Regions from separate parts of the Homo sapiens genome. Here region 1 is linked to region 2. The links come from fine-mapping of genetic effects on gene expression. A gene starts in region 2. The other region holds a variant in brackets. All regions are shown on one strand. Distances are from middle to middle.

Region 1 (2,913 bases), 570 kb before region 2:
GGATTGTCTTCATTTTCCTTATTCTCCTAAACACTGCAGCTCAGGTAAATAATGACATTTGTTTTGCGCCCTCAAAATGATATTTACAGTACCTATGTTTATGCTATTATGACTGCATCTTGCAGTTCACTTGGGGTCTGAATTGAAATGTGCTGTCTTTGGGGAACAAAGTGAGGGCTGCCTACTGGTGTTCCATGTCCGTTACAAAGACCTGCGAAAAAAGGGTATCTTTCAATGATTTTAAAATGGAATATGCATTTTCTTGAACCCTTGATATCTGGGAGTTTGGGCTTGGCACAGACCTGAGCTGGAAGAACTATGCGAGTTCTCTGAGCCTTTTATTCTTTCTTTCTTTCTTTCTTTCTTTTTTTTTTTTTTTTTGAGATGGAGTTTTGCTCTGTTGCCCAGGTTGGAGTGCAGTGGCGCGATCTTGGCTCACTTCAACCTCTGCCTCTGGGGTTTAAGCAATTCTCCTGTCTCAGCCTCCGGAGTAGCTGGGACTACAGGCACATGTGCCACCATGCCCAGCTAGGCTAATTTTTGTATTTTTAGTAGAGATAGGGTTTCACTATGTTGGCCAGGCTGGTCTCGAACTCCTGGCCTTAAGTTGATCCGCCTGCCTCAGCCTCCCAAAGTGCTGGGGTTTACAAGCATGAGCCACCACGCCCGGCTTTGAGGGCTTTCTTTCGGTTGTCCATGTTAGCGATTGAGAGTTTTGAGTTGGTAAGTCATGCCCAAGTTTGATTTTTGTCTTTGTTGTTTCTCCCCTCCTAGGTTGCCTATGTGCTTCAAGATTGGTGGCTTTCATACTGGTAAGTTATTTCTGGTCTGATGTATGAAATACTCCAAAATCAGTAAGAAGACTCGCTTTTCCATAGAGTTAGAGGGAGGTGTTTGTTGATCCTTCTCTTCTAATCCTCACTTCGTTTACCCGAAGAAAAATTAGAGTGCTTGCTGGTGGAGTGTAAACTGCGGTGGTCTCCACCCATGTCTGATCCGCGGCATCATGTTCACAGACAGTTTCGGGAACTGAAAGTTGTGATTTAAATTGAATTTTTATAAGGTAGATATACACAAGACTAAGTGAGCTGAGAATCATTTTCCAGCATGAAGCGTTTCTCCCAAATTGTGGTTCATTTTTAAAAAAATGTATTTATCTAAATTTCATATATAGCTTAATATTTTTTTCTCCCCATGTTCCATAGGGCAAACAAACAAAGTATGCTAAATGTCACTGTAAATGGAGGAGGAAATGTAACCGAGAAGCTAGATCTTAACTGGTACTTAGGAATTTATTCAGGTAAAGTTTAATCATTTGGTGTATTGTATGAGAGGCTGAGGTGCTTACAATGAGCCTGTGTGAGTAACTAGGGCTTCCAGGAGTCATTCAGTAATGTCTTAACAGATCAGGAGTCTCAGTCGAATTTA[C/T]TCTGTGAATTAATTAGAATAATTATTTTAAAAATCTACTAGAAGAGAGGTTGACTGAAGACTCTTAATTTGCTCTGTACTGGATTTTGAAAGTTAAACCAGGATTGAGCATTCAGAAAATCAGCCACTGGAAATATGTGGCTATTGTCTATTCTAATAGGTTGCTTTAGCTAAATCTTATATCATTATACGGATGGGCAGGGGGATTAGAAACGGATCTCCACCCTGTGGTTCGGATGGTTCCAATTCTGTCTAAATAAACCCTGGCTTTTATTGAACTTGGATGAAATCCTCTGGCAGCAAGGCCCCCAAAATAAAAGCATTATTCCCTCCCAGGTATGCAAAGCTCCCTTCAGCACTGCTCATCTCCTGGGCTTCACTAATTACTTAAGAGGGAAGCTGAGCAGGGAAAAATCCAGTGTCTGGGAATTAGGATGCCTTCTATTTCTTACCTTGAGATCACAATGTTATCGCGTCCCCAACTGTGTGATTAATTTAACATTTGGCTTGCCAGACTAATATTAACGCCACACTCTGTTTTCACAAGAGTGCTTAGAATGTATGTAGCATTACATACTGTTTAAAGAAAATCTTCATCTAAAATTTTAAATATTTCCACAGGAAATGCTCCTACAAGCTTTCCTCAGAGATAGAGTGAGTTATCTTTGTAAGAACCTACTCAGTGAAATTTGGTGTTTATTTCATCGATCGCTTGCTAAGAAATCTAAATCTGTTAGGTGTTTACCTTCCAACTGATGGACTATGTGGAAACTAAAGGAAGAAGGAAATCTATTATGTTCTATTATGTTCGTGTAGGATGGCAGGCTAAGGATAATGCCCGTTGATGGAGTTAGGAATTTGAGCTGCTTTCAGAGGTTAAATAACAGTGACATGTCATCTGAAAGGGAAATATTTGTTATAGAAGTTACCCCCACTGTATTTAGCATTGTGAATGAAGAGATGTTAGGAAAGCTCTTTTAATTTCTATGTGAATAATGGATCCTCATTCATGTCTTAATAAAATGTATGATTTATTTTATTCATTTAAAAATGTCTTGTGTCTATGTAAAACAGTGGGGGATTAGTTGCTTATTTAGATTAATTATCTTATGTTAAAATATAATTTGTGTTTTCTTGCAATTCAATTATTCAAGAGGTTTTCCACATGCAACTTAATACGGTATTTTTAAATTCTTTAAAGCTACTTGGGCATTTTCTACAAGGAAAAGGTAAATCATTTCTCCTATTCCTTGTTAATATCACATGTTGGTATCAAAACATACCACCTTTTTTAGATTATGGGACATAATGTAAGTAATAAGATTTGGAATATGGAGAAGATCAACTACACTTCATGATTATCTATCCTACTTCTGAGTTTTTAATAGAACTTGCAATTGAATTAGAGCCTAGAATGAAATTGTATTATACACCTGATTTTTCTTTTCTGTGCAGTTTCCATTCAGTGAGAGAAAAATAAACTAT
Region 2 (2,913 bases):
TATCTATATTATACATCATGGAATTTGAGGGGGTCATAGAATATGAACATTTGAAATTTTCATATGTTTTACCACTTTGCCTTGTAAAAAGGTTGTGGTATGATTCTTCCACATATACACCTGTACTGGATGTTTCCATTCGTTTTCAGCTTTGCCAAACATTATGGTGGGGAAAAAAAGATATTTATCTATTCGACAATATTTAATGGTCATTTATTCTGTGCCAAGTCTCTAAGGACATGCGATTACAGCAGAAAACAAAACAAAGCCCCTGACCTCATGGAACACTAAACAGAGGGCAGTGACATCAATGTAAATGTTGAGTGCTAGGAAGAAAAATAAAGAAGGATAAGATGATTCGGCAGGGTTGGGCAGAGCTCGCTATTTTAATTGTGGTGGTCAATAGGATGCCATTCAAGCTGAAAACGGAAGTAAGGGTAAAAACTAGGCAGACATCTGGGGAAAGACAATCAAGGTCCCGGGGAAGTAGCATGCCTGGCACATTGAATGAAGAGCAAGGAGGGTGGGGAGGCTGGGGCGGAGTGAGCAAAGGAGAGAATAGAATAAGACATCAGCGTAGGACCTAGGGAATATCTTTATCATGATTGCAAGCCTTCTGCGCTGTCTGTAATAATAATATTATTATTTTTTGAGACGGAGTTTTGCTGTTGTTGCCCAGGCTGGAGTGCGATGGTGCGGTCTCGGCTCACTGCAACCTCTGCCTTCCGGGTTCAAGCAATTCTCCTGCCTCGGCCTCCCAAGTAGCTGGGATTACAGGCGCCCGCCACCACGCCCGGCTAATTTTTGTATTTTTAGTAGAGACAGGGTTTCACCATGTTGGCCAAGCTGGTCTCGAATCCTGACCTCAGGTGATCCGCCCACCTCGGCCTCCCAAAGTCCTGGGATTACAGGCGTAAGCCACGGCGCCCGGCCTGAAATAATATTAACAACAGCAAAAGATCATTTTGCAGGCCAGGCACGGTGCTCACGCCTGTAATCCCAGGACCTTGGGAGGCTGAGGCGGGAGGTTGGCTAGATCCCAGGAGTTCGAGACCAGCCTGGACAACAGGGCGAAACCCATCTCTACCAAAAATTAGGCGGGCGTGGTGGCGCACGACTGTATTCCTAGCTACTCAGGAGGCTGAGGTGGGAGGATTGCTTGAGCCCCATTGGTCGACGCTGCAGTGAGCCGTGATCGCACCACTGCACTCCAGCCTGGGTAACAGAGGGAGACCCTGTCCCCGCCCCACTAAAAAAAAAAATCATTTTTAAATTGCAACCTCCCATCTCCATCTGCAACAACTCCCCGTTCTCAGCTCAACTGATAGGTAACCTCTAGAGATGGCTGTAGTACAAGAATGAAAAAAGGTACTCATTCATAAATCTGATCCATAGTGGTGGCATTTCCGGGAAAAACGTTCCATACCCCTACCATCCGGGCGACCCCAATTGCACCTGGCGGACCAGGCAAGGGCGGAAAGGAGCAGCGCCTGCGCGTGGTGAGCGCGGCCCCGCCCAGCCCGCTAGTGGGCGGGCAGAAACTGGCCACAGAGCAGTCTCCGGAAGCTGCCTCTGGCTGCTCTGTTAACGTGTCCCGCGAGCGAGGCGCGTCGCAAAAGGTCGCGGCGGAACTTCCCTGCGCTTTTCAGACCATACTCTTTACGGTACTAGGCACTGCTGAGCTGGGAGATGTCGGCGGCGTGTTGGGAGGAACCGTGGGGTCTTCCCGGCGGCTTTGCGAAGCGGGTCCTGGTGACCGGCGGTGCTGGTTTCATGTAGGTAATGGCGCCGCTAGCCAAGCAGTGGCTCCCCAGAAACCCCTACCTTTTCCCGCAGCTCTGCTTGCCCTAGGTAATTTGGGTCCAGCTTTGAGGGGTCCTTATTCTGATATGGGGAGGGTCCTAATGCACGACCTGGACCAGCTTTTCTCTCTCTGGCCTGCAAAGAAGTGGTTCCTTTGAAACTGACTTCTTTAAAACGCCTCTTCCAAAGCTGCGTTACTCTCCGCCCTTCTGTGGCCGGAGGTGCTCACCATGTCACTCCTTGAGTGCGTGCAAGTTACCCTAAGCTGCTCACCGACTGCTTCCCACCTCCAGCCTAGAGCACCCACACCCCACGATGGGCCCTGTACATATAGGCACCCCCAAAACGATTTAAGGACTATAATAGGACATCTATGTAATCAGCAAACTTTTACAAATCCACTGTTGACACCCTTTTCTTCCTCAGACCCACATTCGAGCAGCAAGTCCTCTCTACTTCCAAAGTATATCCTTACGGCGACCACTTCTCACCAGTTTCCCGTTTCCACCCTAGCCCATGTTTACTGTCATCTTTTGCCTCGACTGCTGCTGTAGCCTCTTGGTTGGCCATAACTGCGTCCACTCATGTTCCTTTAAAGCCTGTTGCTCACATACAAGTCAGTGTTTCTTAAGTCAATCAGATCATGGTAGAAGCAGGATTTTACTTCAGTGGTTCCTGCCACACTTAAGAATAAAGCCCAAACTCTACCATATCTAGAAAACTCAAGTGCCCAAGCCCTACTTTTGCAACCTGATCTGCTTTTCTGTACCTGCCATGCTTCCCCTCTTAGTTCTTGGAACACACCAAGATACACACTTCTGTCTTGAGGCCTTTGCACTTGCTTCCCCTTTCCTTAGGCTGTTTGCACCACTCAATTCTGGTTTTTATTCAGATAGCACCTCAGAGAGTTCTTACCTGACCACCATATCTAAAATAGCCCCTCTCCCAACTAGCACACTTAACCTCTACCTGAAATTATATTGCGGATTTGTGTCTGCTTGTTTATTGCTTGTATCCCCACTCTAAAATGCAAACTCGGTAAGGACAGAGACTACTGTTCATTCAGCACCTGGAAGAATGCCTGGCCCATTCTATATAAGTCTTTAGTAA

The links. PIP is the estimated chance that this variant, and not a neighbour inherited with it, causes the effect. A credible set is the group of variants that fine-mapping cannot tell apart.
Region 1: its variant is the best candidate, but not a certain one, in a credible set for the expression of TGDS in pancreas (GTEx, PIP 0.52).

What each region holds. Positions count from the first base shown.
Region 1 is chr13:95,161,509-95,164,421 of GRCh38, reverse strand. It overlaps ABCC4 (ATP binding cassette subfamily C member 4 (PEL blood group)), which reads left to right. Exons shown (of 31, transcript NM_005845.5): 16 at 1-44; 17 at 775-812; 18 at 1,206-1,300. Among named protein-coding and RNA genes, the nearest start is that of SNORD13G, 47 kb to the left of the region's middle. The variant C/T (reference allele first, on the strand shown) is at 1,429.
Region 2 is chr13:94,594,913-94,597,825 of GRCh38, reverse strand. TGDS (TDP-glucose 4,6-dehydratase) reads left to right here and starts at 1,674. Exons shown (of 12, transcript NM_014305.4): 1 at 1,674-1,775. The coding sequence starts at 1,690. RefSeq lists an enhancer at 1,501-1,810.